Linked DNA regions of Homo sapiens: region 1 is linked to region 2. Evidence: fine-mapped expression QTL. A gene starts in region 2. The other region holds a variant in brackets. All regions are shown on one strand. Distances are from middle to middle.

What was found. PIP is the estimated chance that this variant, and not a neighbour inherited with it, causes the effect. A credible set is the group of variants that fine-mapping cannot tell apart.
Region 1: its variant is the best candidate, but not a certain one, in a credible set for the expression of CIRSR in stomach (GTEx, PIP 0.53).

The regions. Positions count from the first base shown.
Region 1 is chr2:174,451,670-174,461,582 of GRCh38, reverse strand. GPR155 (G protein-coupled receptor 155) reads left to right here. Exons shown (of 16, transcript NM_152529.7): 9 at 91-181; 10 at 1,495-1,705; 11 at 7,742-7,846. Among named protein-coding and RNA genes, the nearest start is that of GPR155, 30 kb to the left of the region's middle. The variant C/A (reference allele first, on the strand shown) is at 5,247.
Region 2 is chr2:174,390,174-174,399,931 of GRCh38, reverse strand. It overlaps CIRSR (corepressor of RBPJ and splicing regulator), which reads left to right and starts at 4,220. Exons shown (of 10, transcript NM_004882.4): 1 at 4,220-4,381. The coding sequence starts at 4,310. SCRN3 (secernin 3) reads right to left here and starts at 4,202. Exons shown (of 8, transcript NM_024583.5): 1 at 4,115-4,202; 2 at 1,490-1,657; 3 at 1-10. The coding sequence starts at 1,648. RefSeq lists enhancers at 3,274-3,774, 4,272-4,321 and a silencer at 7,708-7,872.

The DNA.
Region 1 (9,913 bases), 62 kb before region 2:
TTGGTAGTTCTCTGTTTGCTTACACCTTTCCATATAGACAGTTACTATTCATCCTTTCTTTTTCTCTCCCAATATCACTTGTGATTACAGAATTCCTGCTCTCCTTGTTGGTGTTCTTTTGATAACTGGAAAACACAATGGAGATAGCATTGACTCAGCCTTCTTTTATGGAAAAGAACAGGTGGGAAGAGTTTACTGGCAGTTCTGTTCTTGAGAATGTCTCTTTTTAGCTCGTTATGTGCCTTGCTAGACTTATATTAAAATTAACTTTGAAAATCTATTTCAATTTATTGCATATCAGATTGGTGATCCTATATCACTTTGTCTCATCTAGAACATGAACATTTTACATGTCTAAGTCCATTTTTAGCTGAAGATTTCTAAATGCTTAAAACTTATTGAATGTTCTTAATCACACTTAGGAATTGTGTTTCCTGTGCTGGAGAAAAGAGTGATTAATTTAAAACCATTTAATAAGTTAGCAGTAATAATAAAGGTCAAATTCTTGACTCTTAATCCTATCATAAATATAAATTTCAGGACAAAACGTATCTAGGAAAAATATTCTTGAAAAGCTATAGAGTAGGTGGCTTGTGGGACCTGCAGAATTCTTTAGGAGTGGAGTCCAAAGATGTGTTTTTAAAAAGCCTCTCCACATAATTTTGATTTCTTACTCTTTTTTTCTGTTTTGCAATTTTGGATTTTATTGTGTTTTTGTGAGAATAAATAAGATTATACATATAAAAGATTTAGAGTAGTCTTGGCATCTGGTTAGTGCTCAATAAATATTAGCTATAATTATTTTTAATATCATTACCATAAAAACATCTTAGTGACTGAAGTATGCGTGAATTATACGTGGAAGTGAGCAGAAACAGGAGTAAAGAAAACATCGGAGAGAAATCATTTAGATTCCTTGTAAAGGAAACCAGTGGCTGTGTTGGTAACCAATTGTTATACATGAAAGAAGCATCTAAAACCTTGTGTAATTACAAGCAAACCCTAATTTCTCTCCAAGTAACTTACATTCCTTATATACACTTACCTTTTTAAAAGAGCTACTGTTCTAGAGTATTTAAAACTGTGGAGATATATTGTCCATCAAAAACGTGCCCTAAGATGGCTGGGTGCGGTGGCTTACACCTGTAATCCCAGCAGTTTGGGAGGCCGAGGCGGGTGGGTCACGAGATCAGAAGATTGAGACCATCCTGGCTAACACGGTGAAACCCTGTCTCTACTAAAAAATACAAAAAATTAGCTGGGTTGTGGTGGCGGGCGCCTGTATTCCCAGCTACTTGGGAGGCTGAGGCAGGAGAATGGCGTGAACCTGGGAGGAAGAGGTTGCAGTGAGCCGAGATTGTGTCACTGCACTCCAGCCTGGGCGACAGAGCAAGACTCCATCTCAAAAAAAAAAAAAAAAAAAAAAAATGTGCCCTAAGATTATCAAGATGAAGTTGTGAAAAGTGGCCTGATATCTTTTTTTCATGTCGGCAGATGATCACCACAGCAGTCACCCTGTTCTGCAGCATCCTGATAGCTGGCATATCCCTCATGTGCATGAACCAGACTGCCCAAGCAGGAAGCTATGAAGGTTTCGATCAGTCTCAGAGCCACAAAGTGGTGGAGCCTGGAAATACTGCTTTTGAGGAGAGTCCAGCACCAGTAAATGAACCAGAACTTTTTACAAGCTCTATTCCAGAAACAAGTATGATCTTTTTAATTTTATTTTTATTTATTTGAGACAGAATCTTGCTCTATCATCCCGGCTGGAGTGCAGTGGCATGATCTCAGCTCACTGCAACCTCCGCCTCCTGTGTTTAAGCGATTCTGCCACCTGAGCCTCCAGAGTAGCTAGGACTACAGGTGCCTGCCACCATGCCCTGCTAATTTTTGTATTTTTAGTAGAGATGGGGTTTCGCCATGTTGCCCAGGCTGGTCTCGACCTGCTGAGCTCAGGCGATTCACCCGCCTCGGCCTCCCACAGTGCTGGGATTACAGGCATGAGCCAGCCTGATCTTTAAATATAAAGAAACTGCTACATGCCTTTATAGCATGTATCCTAAATGTTTTGTTTATGGGAAACTTCCTTGAACTAGTTTGAATATCATGAGTGCTTGTCAAATGAAGAATTTGAATCATAGTCAACAAACTTGCTTGTAAAATTATTCATTAGATTTTTGTTTATAAGTCTTATTGTGAGTATACACTTTTGTTAAATCCTAAAACTTCCCTGGACCTGAGAATATAGAAAAAAGTAACAACTGAAGGAAGGCCCTAACTAGGAAACGAAGCACATACATAAGTTAATTTAACAATATTGTATCAGGCAAGCACCATCAATAATATGAACTAAAGGAGGCCTGTTTAAAGCCAGATTAATGATGTAAGTCAGTTTTGGGCAAACTATAGTCCATAGGCCAAATCTGGCCCACCACCTGTTTTTGTATGGTCCACCAGCTAAAAATGTTTTTTTTCTTTGTTTGTTTATTTATTTATTTTTGCCACAGAGTCTCGCTCTGTTACCCAGGGTGGAGTGCAGTACCCTTGGCTCACCGTAACCTCTACCTCCTGGGTTCAAGCAATTCGCCTGTCTCAGCCTCCCCAGTAGCTGAGACTACAGTCGCACGCCACCACGCCTGGCTAATTTTTGTATTTTTAGTAGAGATGGGGTTTCACCATATTGGTCAGGCTGGTCTAGAACTCCTGACCTCAGGTGATCCACCCGCCTCGGCCTCCCAATGTGCTGGGATTACAGGTGTGAGCCACTGCACCCAGCCTAAAAATGTTTTTTACATTTTTAAAGGGTTGAAGAAAAATTAAAAGAAGACAAATACTTCGTGACTCTTAAAAACTACATGAAATTTTAATTTCATGTCCATAATTTTATTGAAACATAGCCATGCTCATTCATTTATATATCATCTATGGCTACCTTCATGCTATAATGGCAGAGTTGAGTCTTTGGGGCCTATACTAAGGCAGTAGGTATTGGATAAACAGGAGAGGCCAAACTCAGGCAAAGTTGTATTGACAGGGTTTGGTACTTGATTAGAAGCTGGGTGAGGGCTAAGAGAGAAACTGAGAACAACTTCCAGAAATCTAGTTTAAGTGAATGTATAATTGTGGGTATTACCTAAGAAGAATTCACAGAGAACAGAATATGTAGGGGAAGATAATGAGTTCAATTTGACCCTTCTAAGTTTGAGATGCATGAGACACCAAGGATTCATTTTAGTTTCTCAGTGTACCTCTTAAAATGGGATGCTTAGATCTGAATATAACATTCCAGTTACCATGGTCCTAGGACACAGTGAGCATTCAATATTTGATGAATGCTTGTTGACTGAGTGAAGAATAAGAGAATCATTCCTGTCCTTACTTAGAAAAGAAACTTTTAATTCTGCCTAACATTGCATTAACTTATTCTGATGATTTCATCTTGAATTTATGAGCAACTAAAAACCTGCCTCCCACCCCGAGTACATTACTGAACAGTTTCTCTCCAATCCTGAATTTTTGCATCTGGCTTTTAAAAGTCTAGGACAAAGCTGGGTATGGTTGCTCACACCTGTAACCCCAGCACTTTGGAAGGATTGCTTGAGCCCAGGAGTTCAAGACCAGCCTGGGCAACATAGTGAGACCCTGACTCTACAAAAAATAAAAAATTAGCTGGATGTGGTGGTACACACCTGTAGTCCTAGCTACTCAGGAGGCTGAGGCAGGAGGATTGCTTGAGCCCAGGAGGTCGAAGCTGCAGTGAGCCATGGTCACGCCACAGCAATCCAGCCTGGGCAATAGACGTGATCCTGTCTTTAAAAAAAAAGTCAAGGCCTGGTGCGGTGGCTCACACCTCTAATCCCAGAACTTTGGGAGGCTGAGGTGGGCGGATCACAAGGTCAGGAGTTTGAGATCAGCCTGGCTAACATGGTGAAACACCATCTCTACTAAAAATACAAAAATTAGCTAGGTGTGGTGGCGGGTGCCTGTAATCCCAGCTACTCCAGAGGCTGAGGCAGAAGAATCGCTTGAACCAGGGAGGCAGAGGTTGCAGTGAGCTGAGATCGTGCCACTGCATTCCAGTCTGGGTGACAGAGCAAGACTCTGTCTCAAAAAAAGTCTAAGACAGGACTTCAGTATTTGCCTAAGCCTATCAGGACTGAGATTTCTTTGTGTCTTGATTTGTAATCAAATATATTAACTTATTTATTGTATGGTGCTTCTCTTCTCTTCTTCTCTTCTTTTGAAACAAAGTCTTTCTCTTCTCTTCTTTTGAAACAAAGTCTTTCTCTGTCTCTCAGGCTGGAGCGCAGTGGAGCAGTCTTGGCACACTGCAGCTTCCACCTCCTGGGTTCAAGTAATCCTCCCTCTTCAGCTTCCCAAGTAGCCGGGTCTACAGGTGTGTGCCACCATGCCTGGCTAATTTTTGTATTTTTAGTAGAGGTGGGTTTTCACCATGTTGGCCAGGCTGGTCTCGAACTTCTGACCTCAAGTGATCTGCCTGCGTCAGCCTCCCAAAGTGCTGGGAATACAGGCATGAGCCACTGCGCCTGGCCCAGTTTTCTTTTTTAAAAGAAATAAAACTTACCAATAAAGTCAGAATGTTTGTTAGAATCTTTCATTCCTGTTAACTCCAGAAGTAACCACTATTATGAATTTGGATTGTATCCTTCCAGAGCACAATTTTACTATACTTTTACAATATGTGTGGTTTTCCATCAACAATATATAGTATTTTTATATGCTTTTACATTTTTATATAAATCTTATACTGTAGTTGTCTTCTTGCACTCAATATTTTTGAATTCATTTTGTAGATGTAATCAATGATATGCATATACCAAATTTTATTTATTAATTTCCTTATTGATGGATTAAGTTGCTTTAAAATATTTTGCTATTAGAAACAATGCTGTAATGTACAGCTTTATTCACATCTCCTTGAGTATACATCAAGATACATCAAGATTATACCTAGGATGTTGCTGAGTGCAGTGTTTCACACCTGTAATTCTAGCACTTTGGGAGGCTGAGGCAGGTGAATTGCCTAAGCTCAGGAGTTGGAGACCAGCCTGGGCAACATGGCAAAACCCATCTCTACAAAAAATAAAAAATTAGCTAGGCATGGTAGCATGTGCCTGTAGTCCGAGCTACTCAGGAGGCTGAGGTGGGAGGATCACCAGAGCCTGGAAAGCAGAGGCTGCAGTGAGCCAAGAGTGCACCACTGCACTCTGGCCTGGGAAACGGAG[C/A]GAGACACTGTCTCAAAAAAAAAAAAAAATTATACCTAGGATGGTAATTCCTGGGTCACAGGAAATAGGTAAGTTCCCATGGCTTTAATGTGAACCCTTTGTACTTTGTTCCTAATGTTGCATCTCTAACCTGACCCCTTTATACAGATCCAATCCCAGATTTCCTGCTGTCTACACATATATTATTTATATCTCAGCCAGGCGTGGTGGCTCACACCTGTAATCCCAGAACTTTGGGAAGCCAAGGCAAGCAGATCACTTGAGGTCAGGTGTTTGAGACCAGCCTGGCCAACATGGTGAAACCCCGTCTCTACTAAAAATACAAGAATTTGCCAGGCTGTGGTGGCAGACGCCTGTAGACCCAGCTACTCGGGAGGCTGAGGCATGAGAATCGCTTGAACCTGGGAGGCAGAGGTTGCAGTGAGCCAAGATTGTGCCACTGCACTCCAGCCTGGGTGACAGAGCGAAACTTCATCTAAAAAAAAAATAAAAAATTATTTACGTCTCTTTCTGAATACGTGGACAGCACTTGTTCTCTTTGTCAAAGGTACTGGAGCTTTTTAAACAAACAATTATCTTTCTTTTAGTGGTTCCATCATTCTTTAGAACTTCCCAGCTCAGCAACATCTCTGCTGTTTCCCCTTGAGGTGAATTAGCCATTCAGGGCGTGGAGTTCTCCCTCTGCAGGGTCCCCCTCCTCCCCCTGACCTCCCATCTCCCGACTTGGGCCTCCAGTCTCTCTGCTGGATTCTTGTAATTCCCTCCTAACTGAACTTCCTGTTTCTTGTCACTCTGGTCCAGTCTGTTTTATAAGGGAAATGGCCAAATTAACCTTCCTCACGGAGTTCTGGCCACATCAGGCTCCTGCTTCAGAGGCTGCAAGGGCCTTGCAGTGCCCGTGATGCCCAAAGCGCTGCACGTAGTGCCCAAGCCCTTCCACTGCCAGCCATATTCCCTCTCCGAGCCTATTCTGCCACCTCTCCCTGCAGCTGCCTGAGCTACCCAGTGAACCTTCCATTCTTTGGTCCGTCCAGCACTCGGCACTCATGTTATCACTTCTCTTCAGGGCCTTTAAAACCGAAGCTCACTAATTTCTCTGTTTGGTCATTTGTTTGTGTTTTTGTTGTTGTTGTTGTTGTTATTTTTATTTTTATTTTTTTGAGATGGAGTCTCGCTCTGTTGCCCAGGCTGGAGATCATTGTGTAATGATCAAATCAGGGTAATTAGCATATCTATCACTTCAAAATGTATAATTTCTTTGTTGTAGGAACATACAAAATCCTCTCTTCTATTTTGAGATGTACAGTATCTTTGTTGACTATAGCCACCATACTGTATGATAGGGCACTAGAACTTATTCTAATGTAACTTTGTACCTGTTGACCCCATCCCTGCCACCCCCTACCTGCCCAAGTATCCGGTACCCACTACTCATCCTTCCTTCCTTTCCCTTCCTTCTCTTCCTTCCTTTCCCTTCCTTCCCTTCCTTCCTTTTCCTTCCTTTCTTTTCCTTCCTTTCCCTTCCTTCCCTTCCCTTCCTTCCCTTTCCTTCCCTTTCCTTCCTTTCCCTTCCTTCCTCTCCCTTCCTTCCTTTTCCTTCCTTCCCTTCCCTTTCTTCCCTTCCTTTCCTTTCCTTCCTTTCCCTTCCTTCCCTCCCTCCCTCCTTCCCTCCTTCCCTTCTTCCCTCCCTCCTTCCTTCCTTCCTTCCTTCTTTCCCCAGGCTGGAGCGTGACTGCTCCCTGTAATCTCAAACTCCTGGACTCAAGCAGTCCTCCCACCTCATCCTCCCAAGAAGCTGTACTATAGCCATATGCCAGCATGCCCAGCTATTTTTTAAAAAGCTTTTTGTAAAGACAGAGTCTTGCTGTATTACCCAGGCTGATCTTAGGTTCCTAGCCTCGGCTGGGCATGGTGGCTCACACTTGTAATCCCAGCACTTTGGGAGGCCGAGGCGGGCAGATCGCCTGAGGTCGGGAGTTCTAGACCAGCCTGGCCAGCATGGTGAAACCCTGTCTCTACTAAAAATTCAAAAATTAGCTGGGCCTGGTGGCAGGTGCCTGTAATCCCAGCTACTCGGAAGCTGAGGCGGGACAATCGCTTGAACCCAGGAGGCGGAGGTTGCAGTGAGCCGAGATTGCGCCACTGCACTCCAGCCTGGGCAACAGAGTGAGACTCCACCTCAAAAAACAAAAAAACAGAACAAAACAAAACAAAATCCTAGCCTTAAGTGATCCTGCCACCTCAGCCTCCTGAAGCAACAGGTGTAAGCTACCATGCCTGGCCACATTCAGTGCTTCTATGAGATTAAGTTTTTTTTATTTTGTATATGAGTGAGAACATTTGAATACTTTTGGATAGATACCATGTGAAAACTATTGAGGCTACATGGGAAGTGTGTGTGAGTGGATTTTGTTTTGTTTTCTTTGGCATTTCTTAAAATTGTCCATTTCTGTTGTGGTTGGGCTCTACTCTCACATACTATTTGATTGATATAGGTTGCTGCTCCTGCTCCATGGGAAATGGTGAATTACACTGCCCATCAATAGAGCCAATAGCAAACACAAGCACCAGTGAGCCTGTGATTCCTTCGTTTGAGAAAAGTAAGTGCCTCTGGACTATGAGGATGGGATTAAGGGACAGAAGATTCCTTATTCTTTTTTTTTTTTTTCTTTTTTTTGAGACGGAGTCTTGCTCTGTCACCCAGGCTGGAGTGCAGTGGCGCTATCTTGGCTCACTGCAAGCTGTGCCTCCCAGGTTCACGCCATTCTCCTGCCTCAGCCTCCTGAGTAGCTGGGACTACAGGCGCCCACCACCATGCCCAGCTAATTTTTTGTATTTTTAGTAGAGACGGAGTTTCACTGTGTTAGCCAGGATGGTCTCGATCTCCTGACCTCGTGATCTGCCTGCCTCGGCCTCCCAAAGTGCTGGGATTACAGGCGTGAGCTACCACACCCGGCCAGAAGATTCCTTATTCTTATCCCTCAAAAGAACTCTACATAGAATATCTATAGAAGTTACAAACATCAAGAATATAGATCCTCAATTAAGAGCAAAGAAGTGCTAATAGGGAATAATTGTGCATAGACAGAATACTCACTTTAAAAAATAAAGTTCTCACAAAGTGATAATAGGTAGTGTCATACACACATTTTCCAATAAATTTAACCCAAGTGACAAATCCAGGAAGTTTGCCCTAAAGGGCATTTTGGTGGGAGGTGGAGAGAGGGAAGCTTTTTTCTTGTTTTAGAAACAGACTTTTCCCCCATTCTCATCCCCTAGGACCAGGACTAATTAATTAGTTCTTAATTATATTTTGAATCTTTATGCTTTAAATATGGCCATTCTTATAAAATAAGGAACAAACACCTTTAAAAGTAATAACCTCTTGGCCAGACAAGGTGGCTCACGCCTGTAATCCCAGCACTTTGGGAGGCCGAGGCGGGTGGATCACAAGGTCAGGAGTTCGAGACCAGCCTGGCCAACATGGTGAAACCCCGTCTCTACTGAAAATACAAAAATTAGTTGGGTGTGGTGGTAATCCCACCCAACTGTAATCCCAGCTACTTGGGAGGCTGAGGCAGGAGAATTGCTTGAACACAGGAGGCGGAGGTTGCAGTGAGCCAAGATCACGCCACTGCACTGCAACCTAGGTGACAGAGCAAGACTCCATCTAGGGGGAAAAAAAAAGTAATAACCTTTTGACTAAGAGGCTGAATTACATTTGTGGCCTAAATTTCAAATTATTCAAAACAACCGAACATACTTATGTGGAATTGCAGTGCATTTTTCGTTGATTATACTTATTTATAATCAAACTAAAAAGGGAAACCCCCAAAAATGCTCTTTTTGATAAGGCCTATGTCAACTGTATTATTGCTAAAGGCATTATGTTTTTATATAAGAAATGTAAGGATTATAGAAAACAATGTATGCAAATCACTTAGCACAGTATGTGGTATACATAGTAAATGGTCATTAAAATATGTAGTAGCAGTAGTAATTATTGTTATTCAGATGGGATTTATATTTGGCTATCTGCTGGCAAGGAATGAATCTTAAATAATAATAGAATTCACATTTCCATAAAAAGTAGTGAAAACATATCAGATATGAAACATTCATTGACTTTTTTTTCTTTTACAAGAAACCCTTTCTGGCAGTTACACTGTCTTTGTTTTATCTGTCTGCTTTTTTTCTAAAATCGTTTCTTTACATCAGAATTCCCAAGGTTTTCCTCCTTATTGTTATCTCCCTACACAATATACCTAGTAGTAAAATCCATTAACAAATTCAACATGTAATCTGATTTGGCAAATTTCTTTTTCCCTCCCCAAATCTCCTTAGGCTTTGCTTATCTGTCATTTTCTTCATTAATAATGTTGATTCTCGCCTGAGCGTGGTGGCTCACTCCTGTAATCCCACCACTTTGGGAGGCAAAGGCAAGAGGATCGTGCTTGAGCCCAGGAGTTCAAGACCAGCCTGGGCAACATAGCCAGACCCTATCTCTACAAAGAATCAAAAAAATTAGCTGAATGCAGTGGCTCATGCCTGTAATCCCAGCTACCCAGGAGGCTGGGGTGGGAGGATCGCTTGAGCCCAGGAGGTTGCAGCTGCAATAGGCCATGATCATGTCTGAGCAACAGAGCAAGACCCTGTCTCAAAAATAA
Region 2 (9,758 bases):
TATATGTACACTGTAAAAAAAAAAAAAAAAAAGTCATAGCAAGAACCACAAAACCAGAAAAGTTATCAAAATCCAGAATTTAAAAAAATCAGTCAGAAGACAAAACTGTTATGAAAGAGGTAAAGGAAATATAAGTAAATTGAAATTTTCAATAATAAAGGCATTACCCTTAAAACATATTCAGAATAACCCTAAAATATTTATTCATTCAAATATTTGCTGAGCATTTCCTATTATAAAACATTCTGCCAAGAGATATGTTAGTTACAAAGATGAATCAGATAAAGATCTCACTTTTGAGAAACTAAAACTTCTACATTAAGATAAAATAAAGTATAAAGTATTAGGGTCATGAAGTGAAGACAAGGTGCTATTGGAGCTCAGGAGAAAGATGGTCTCTAGCTGTAATATCTTGAAACATTTTTGTAGATGTGTGAGTTGAAGCTTAAGGAAGTAGTTCTCAACCTCAATATCCAGTGTTTCTTGATTAGTGATATAATTACTCACATGGTAGCCTTCGAATACAAGAGTTTTGTCATAGGAATCTCACATCACATTTTGAAGTCAACCATTAGGTATGCCCACAGCAATGAAAAGAATGAGAACCACTGGTTTACAGGACAGGCTATATTTAAATATGAAGAAATAAAGTGGAAGTGGTATCACAGATGAATAAGTGGTCTTAGCAAAAGAAAAAAATATGGCATAGGATACAGAAAAAAGTCTAATATTTAATATGTTTTAATATTAGAATATCAATAAAATAAAATCTAAAAAGTATGAATTAGCAACAATAGCATAATTTGAAGCTCTCATTTTAAGTTCCACATTAAATGGGTTTTTAAAATAAGTTTTTAAAGGATCCTTTAATTAATGTGTATACTACCAAGTGACTGCATAAAATGTATATTGATAGTGTTAACATAGGGCCTAATAAACCTTTTTTGATGTGTCATAAAACTGTCATTCCTAAAGTCTGGGATGACTTTCCTATTCTACATCAAGTAGAACCTAAGCCAATTCAGAATCAGAATCCTTTTTGTCCATCAAATTCCAGCTAACTCCAAGCTGAATTAAATGTTCATTCTCTTCCGCTGCCACAGCATGCTACTGTTACTTAAATTTAGCATTTAAACCATCCTATTTTATAATGGGGTATAATGCATACACATCTTATTGCTATACTAGACTCTAAGCTCCTGGAACAGAGTCTTGACAGCTGACTTTAAATCTCTTGCCCTATCTAACATGCTTGCATATGGAAAGCATTCAAATATTTATTCAAACAATGGATAATTTTATTATTGTTATTTCAACGTCCTCCGAATCACTGAAATAAAAGATCACAGTTTATTTCTGACTCATTTATTTTTCAAATGTAAACTCCTCAATTTTAACTTCTACAGTTTCTTCCAAATTGCTATGTATAGAAATAACTTTATGATATTTTTAAAAGGCATATTGCTAACAAAACATTTATTTCACCTACCTTAAGACGTTCTCCCAGGTTATCATGAACTACAGCAGGAAAATAAACCACCTCTTGTACTTCATCATAGAGTCTATCTGAATTTTTTCCAAAAATAATCCTGTTATCGACTGTTGCTGGAGGTAATGCCACGAAAGTGTCACAGGAAAAAGGTTCCATTTTTTTTAACTAAAAATTATACAGATGTTTTAAAATAAAAAGAACACTTTTAAGTATATAAAAATAAAGAGTTTTACTCAATGACCAAAGGATATTATTGCCATATCTAATTAAGGATGTTCATTAAAGCTTTGATTTTTTTATTTTTATTTTTTGGAGACAAGGTCTAGCTCTTTCACCCAGGCTGGAGTGCAGTTGTATGATCAGGGCTTACTGCAGCCTGGAACTCCTGGGCTCAGGAGATCCTCCCCCTTCTGCCTCCCAAAGCCCTGGGATTACAGGCATGAGTGACCGTGCTTGGCTGTTCATTAAAGTTTTAAATTTTGTATACTACAGCCTAAAAATCAGTAAGAATATGACTTGGGACTCAATCTGGTACTACAACTCAGTAAGAAAATGGCAATGAGAACTACCTTCTTCTACTGTATAGTTCACATTTATTCTCTAAGACCTTTCTCTCCTAAAGTCTTCCCTGAATTTCGTTTCACCATTTCCATATTTGGGAATCCGTGTACCTAGCTCTATTGTTGTAAAGGCTAGATTCCATTACATTCGTGTATATATAAATCCCTTTACTGGACAATGAGATCCTTGAGGGCTGGGAGTATGTCTTACTAATCTTTATATTCTCTTTGCTGGAACTTGTCTTATGGAAAAAAATCTTACGTGCCCAGTACTTCCTCAAAGGAAGGAAGAAGGGGTCTTATTTGAGCTGGGAAATAATACACATTATAATTCTGATGAGACTGAAATTTTGAAACAGACTCATTGATTCAGACAAAAATATGTCAATATAATTCCAAATTGCTGATATTTCTAGGAGAAAGTTCACATATTTAATTTATAAATCGCAATTATATACTTTAATATCTAGATTACCTCTTCAGTTGTAACTTGGAAAATCTTAGATCTTCACTTATAATAGAACACCTAAAGGTCCTTATTTTGCTGCCAGAACAGACACATTGTTTTACAGAGTTTCCTTCTTTCCTTTAATAATGGCAAAACCTTAAAATGGCTTTACACAGGCAGATGCTAGCAACTTAAAAACAAAATTTAAATATAATAAATGTTTCCTTAAAAAGAAAAGAAAATGACTAAATAAAAACTTCAGACTGAAACTCTTAAGGGTTTTCCTCTTCTCCTCAGTGACGAGAAGTCTGATGTCTTGATGGCTTCTGTTATTTTCTTTCTGTATTTCAACTCTTATGTCCTGGATCTCCTTCTATTTGTGTTTTATAGTTAGTTCTATCACTATATAACTTTGGCAGACTATTTAATCTCTCTCTTACCTATGCCTTCTGCCTCATCAGAAAAATAAGACACTATTTGATGGGCTGTTATGAGAACTTAATAAGGCAACACGTAAAGTGTTTTGCACAGTGCATAGAACATAGTAGATACTCACATGAAAGCTGTTATTGTTATTATTTGGTAGGAGAGAAAATTTCTCATAAAGGCTTATTCGTTTTTTGTTTTTTTTTTTTGATGGAGTTTAACTCTTGTTGCCCGGGCTGGAGTGCAATGGAGCAGTCTTGGCTCACTGCAACCTCCGCCTCCCGCGTTCAAGTGATTCTCCTGCCTCAACCTCCCGAGTAGCTGGGATTACAGGCGCGTGCCACCACACCCGGCTAATTTTTCGTGTTTTTAGTAGAGACGGGGTTTCACCATGTTGGCCAGGCTGGTCTTGAACTCCTGACCTCAGGTGATCCACCCACCTTGGCCTCCCAAAGTGCTGGGATTACAGGCGTGAGCTACCGCGCCCGGCCAAGGTTTATTCTTAACATTACCCTGATAGAGAACTTGGTTGGTGGATCACCTGCTGCAGTAGCAGCCACGTCCACTCAAAAACCTGGAGTCCCAAGGGCCATCAAGCTGCAATAGTAACCTGAGCTGCCTAACTGGGGTCGTAGGGAAAGCTAAGGAAACTTGCCCCCTGGTTAGAATTGCACCTAGCCCACTGAGGAGGTGAAGCCTTGAGAGATTTTACCAACTCCTAACGCGTATTCGTCATTCAATAAGTATTTATTGAACGTCTTTCGGCGCCAGTACCGTACAGCTGGGTACAAAATAGACAGGGCCTCCGTTCTTGCAGAGCTGTCTGTCATTCTATTTCACGCGCTCTTAGTTCAGCCGGCGCTTTCAGAAACATCATATTGTTGGATTCTCGCAAGCATACTACGGTTAGGGCCGGAATTATTATCTTCATAACATAGATGAGAAAAACAGTGCAGAAAAGCTTTTGCAGCTCGAGTCAGAGTCCACAGAAAGTAATGGGCTCGAGCTTCAAGCACCTTTGGTCGAAGGGCCGCCGCGGTCCACCCCGCACCCCGGCCCTGGGCGCTCAAACCGCAGCCGGTGCAGCTGGGCTCCGGAGCCCCTCGGTCAAGCAGTGCCGCGCCACAGTTGGGTCTTCCGGGTTTCTGTCTCAACTATGCACGCCCCTCCCCCGTGCGCGCCCCTCACCTGGCCTCCCAGCTACCCGAAGTGACAGGTGGACGGAGGGAGGAGTGGCCAGTGGAGGCATCAGTTGCCGGAAGCTGTCACCTTTGATCTCGGAAGTTCCCCCTTGCTGCTGGAAACGCAGTTCCGGTTAGGCGGCTGAGTTTGTTTACGTTGCTAACAGATCTAGCCCCTGCTTTCCCTAGTTCCAGTTCCAAGATGGGGAAATCCTTCGCCAACTTCATGTGCAAGAAAGACTTTCATCCTGCCTCCAAATCCAATATCAAAAAAGTGAGTAAACAGACCCGGGGAGGGATTAGGCCCACAGGGACCGCCTTCCCAGAGGCTGCTGGAAGTGAAAGTGATGGTGTCTCTGAGATCCCTAGGACAGCCTCCGCTTCTCTAGGCCTAAAGCCCTGGTGGTCTCGCCTTTCTCTGCTGAGCAGCTCGCTGACGCAGCGGGTCCTCAGCGTTTATTCTGCAACAGCGAGGAGACCGGTGGCCTAGAGAATCTTTGTCGGCCAGAATGCAAATCCATAATATGCGAAGACTAATGTCAAAATTCCTCAGTACTTCCTTCAGCTGATTCTGGTTTTTTGTCTTTTCGGATCCCAGGGATCACGGCTTCTGAACTCTACTTTTCTGTACAAAGAAGCCTCCCCGTTTACTTAAGATAGATCTTTAAAAAAATTACCTAATAATCTAGTGTCTTTTTGATGACTAAACTCGTTGAAGTTTAGTGTTTTACATAATTACAGGTCTACCAGTTGTAATACTTTGGTGAATATCATAGTAATGAAAAGCAAAAGAGTGAAGTAGAAAGAATCAGCTTTGGAGTCAAACCTGGATTCTAGTTATTCGAGCAGTCACTTTTAGCCTTAAGACCTTGCACAAAATATTTGTAATATCTGACCCTCAGTCTTCTAATCTGTAAATTAAGGATGATTGACTTAATTGTGAGGATTAAGTGAAATAGTGAAGATAAAGGATTTGAAACAACGTAGGCATCTATCACTGTGTCCACTACAGAGAGGAGGTGCTCAATAAAATGTTGATTGCCCCTACATAGAAACTTGTGAAAATAACTAAGCTTTTATTTGTTTTTAGAACGAGTTGAGGTGATGAGATACTGCTATATACTCTCACTTCTAGACCAGTGATTCTCAACTTTTTTTTCACTGTTACCTTCCTAAGGAGTCTTATTAAACATTTTTTCTTAATAACTCCCCCATGAAATTTTAATAACACAGATACACCTTGAAAGCTCTTTGGTAATCATCCAGCCCCATCTCCTCATTTTATAAATGAGGAAACAAATTTGCCAAGAGTTACACAGCTAGTTAAATGTTGTACCAGAACTAGGATCTGGAACACCTGATTAACCCAGTGATTTTTTTTCCACTGCACCAGTTTGTGTTTGTGTGGTTGCAACTGTGGGAGGGAGAGGTTTCTTGTATTTGGTTGGCTCAATAACTTTTGACACCAAACACAGACATTTCCTTTCTCTGCATACTTAGGGGGTCAGCTGTTACTATTTTTACAAGAATGAAGAGATTAGATGGAATTCAGGTGCTTGCTTATTTGCTGTTTATATTTAGAGACAAATATACCTGAGAAATCATAATTTTTTACTGGAACTTTTGACATTTCGCTTTATAAATTTCAATGTATCAGCTTTCTTACAAGAAAAAAGAAATCCACAGAGAATAACTTTTGCAAGTCCGCTATGAGAAATTCAGTAAAGCAGTTATAGGCTTAGAACCTACATTCTTCTCATCTGTGTAAAGTGTTATGTAAAATGTACCAAATATTGTTGGCCTCTTTGATCTGTTTTATACTTTTCCCAGGATAGAGGAGAAGAATGAAATGTTTTTGATTAGCAGACCTTTCTAGATAGTTAACACTTTATGGGGAGAGGGGGTGACCTCTAGCATTCTTTATTAACTAAGGATAAAGGAACTATATTAAATGAAGATAAATAGAAAAATTTATTAGGGTAGGAGGAAACTTTTGGAGGTGATGGATATGTTTATAGTGTAGATTGTGATGATGGTTTCACAGGGATATACTTGTCACCAAACTCAGGTTGTATACATTAAATATGTACAGCTTTTTATATGTCATACTCCAGTAAAGTTTTTTTTTTTTTTTAATAGAAGTGGAAGAAACAAAGGAGTTTGATCAAAGAGTGCAAAAGAGTTCCACCATGAAAATTTTAAGGGCCAGGTATGGTGGCTCATACCTATAATTCCAGCACTTTGAGAGGCCAGGAATTCAAGACCAGCATAGGCAACAAAGTGAGACCCCATCTATATTTAAAAAGAAAGAAAGAAAATTCTAATTGTAAAATTAGGCATGTTGGGTTTATTAAAGTCCAGTAGGTTCTTTTTTTCCTTGTTTGTTTTCAGTTTCCCAAGCTTATAAAAAGTCCAGTAGGTTTTAAGGTCTCATTTGTTCACCAAAAATAAGAGTGAATGCTGTATATCTGCTGGTCACTCTGTTGTGTATTGTTATGCGCTGCCTCAATCATTTATGTCACAGGATACACTGTTTTGTTCAGCTGTTCTTTTTTTTTCTTGATTTTGTTAATGAAGGAAGCAGTTAATTTACATTGTGGTCCAAGCTCTTTAGTCTTCTTGTGGACTGGCAAACAGTTCATAAACTGGCTATTGACAATTGCATCACTGTAAACTCCCTTTTTTGTGAAACTCTCTGTTCCCTTAGCTGTAATAACTACTCTCTTCTAGTTTTCCAGCTCTCTTATTAGACTGTTCTTTTCCCATCAACTTCACTGGATCTTTATTCTTAGCCTGCTCCTAAAATATAAGTGTTCCCCAGAGTTTCATCCTTGGCCCACTTCTTGCTTACTTAGTATGCTTGCCCCAAGCAATCACATCCAACTAGCCTGTTTTAACTAGCCTGTTTACTCATGACTCAAATCTGCAGTCCCAGTTTTCTCTTCTTAACTTTGATGTGGCTCAAGACAGCTATCTACTAGACATTTGCATCTTGATGTCCTATAGGCACCTCAAACTCAACATATCTGATATAAAAGTTTTTTACCCCAAATCAGCCCTTTTTATACTTGCTATCTCATATGGGTAGAAATATAGATAGTAAAACAGTCCCTCATCCTGTTGCCCAAACCAGAAGCTCAGGATTCATCCCTTTTCCCATCACTCCTTTATCTAGTCAATCACTGAATGCTATTGGTCTTACCTTCCAAATATCTCTTGAATCCATCTTTCCTTTCTGTCACTGCTGCTTGTGTCTTAATTCAGACCCTCATCATCTTTCACCTATATTGTTGCATTTCCTAAGTGGTTCTACTGCCTCCAATCTTGAGTCCTCTCAAATCCATTCACTACACAGCCATCAGAATAGTCATTTTTCATTTTAACAGCTCTGCTGAGATAAATTTACATATCATACAAACACCCATGTAAAATGTACAATTTAGTGGTTTTTAAAATGTATTCATGGAGTTAAGTAATCATTACCACAAACAATTTTAGAACTTTGTCATCACCCCAAAAAGAAACCCCCGCTGGGCATGGTGGCTCACACCTGTAATCTCTGCACTTTGGGTGGCTGAGGTGGGTGGATCACCCGAGGTCAGGAATTCAAGACAGCCTGGCCAACATGGTGAAACCCTGTCTCTACTAAAAGTACAAAAATTAGCTGGGTGTGGTGGCGGGCGCTTGTAATCCCAGCTACTTGGGAGGCTGAGGTGGGAGAATCGCATGAACCCGGGAGGCGGAGATTGCAGTGAGCCAAGATTGCGCCACTGCACTCCAGCCTGGGTGACAGTGAGACACTGACTCAAAAAAAAAGAAACCTGCATACCTGTTAGTCACTCCCATTTTTCCTTAACTCTTCTCCCTCTCTCCAGCCCTAGGCAAGCACTAATCTACTTTCTGTTAGTGGATTTGCCTATTCTGGAAATTCATTTAAATGGAATCATGCAATCTGTGGTCTTTTTTGACTGGCTACTCTCACCATAATGTTTTTGAAGTTTATCCATGGTATGGCATGTATTGGTACTTTTTCCTTTTTATTGCTAAATAATATTCCATTGTATGAATGTAAGTTATTTCGATAGAATTGTCTTTTTTTAAGCACAAATCTGATCTCTTTCAGCCTGTTATTAAAATATTACAGGATTGAGTCCAAGTAATCTCACTCCATCGTTTTTCTCCTTCTCCCCTCCTACTATTCTCCCACCTCAGATTTATTTATTTATTTATTTTTTGAGATGGAGGCTCACTCTGTTGCCCAGGCTAGAGTGCAGTGATGCAGTCTCAGCTCACTGAAGCCTCTACCTCCCAGGCTTAGGTGATTCTCCTGCCTCAGCTTTCCGAGTAGCTGGGATTACAGATACACACCACCACGCCTGGCTAATTTTTGTATTTTTAGTAGAGATGGAGTTTCACCATGTTGGCCAGGCTGGTCTCAGACTCCTGACTTAAGGTGATCTGCCCACCTCAGCCCAACCTAAGATTTTATATGTTAGTAATATTGAACTACTTACGTTCTATTTTATATCTCTGGGCCTTTGCCTGAGTCATTCTCTCTGCCAGTTATATCTTGCCCTGTTTTTTTCCTTGGCCATGCCTTGATCCTTTTCAAAACCCTGTCAAATGTGTGTGAAATTACCTGTGTATTGAGTTCTTGCAGCAAAATTTTTAATAGCAAAATACTGGAAATTTCTTAAGTGCCCATTTATACAGTATGAGATAAATAAATTATAAATTATGGTATAGTCCCACAATATGCAACTTTACCACCCAAAAGAAGAAAGTGTTTGTTTACTGATCCATATTAGTCTTGTATTAGTATTAGTCTGTTCTCATGCTGCTATGAAGAAATACCTGAGACTGGGTAATTTATAAGGAAAGAATTTTAATTGACTTGCAGTTCTGCAGGGCTGGGGAGGCCTCAGGAAACTTAAAATCATGGCAGAAGGGGAAGCAAACACGTCTTTCTTCACATGGTGACAGCAAGGAGAAATGCCGAGCAAAAGAGGAAAAGCTCCTTTTCTGATGGTTTTATCCATCAAATTTCCTGAGAACTCACTCACTATCACGAAAACACCATGGAGGTAACAGCCCCTTTTATTCAGTTACCTCCCATCGGGTTCCTCCCACGATACGCGGGGATTATGGGAACTACAATTCAAGATGAGATTGGGTGGGGACACAGCCAAACCATACCATTCCACCCCAGCCCCTTCCAGATCTCATGTCCTCACATTTCAAAACACAATCCTGCCCTTAACAACCAAAGTCTTAACTCATTCCAGCATTAACTCAAATGTCTAAGTCCAAAGTCTCATGTAAGACAAGGCAAGTCCCTTCCACCTATGAGCCTGTAAAATCAAAAGCAAGTTAATGACTTCCTGGATACAACAGGAGTACAGGCATTGGGTAAATACACCCATCCCCAATGGGACAATTTGGACAAAACAAAGGGGCTACAGGCCCCATGCAAGTCCAAAATCCAATAGGGCAGTCATTAAACCTTAAAGTGCCAAAAGGATCTCCTTTGACTTCATGTCTCATATCCAGGGTGTGCTGATGCAAGAGGTAGGCTCCCAAAGCCTTGGGCAGCTCTGCCCCTGTGGCTTTGCAGGGTATAACCCCTCTCCTGGATGCTTTCATGGGCTGGT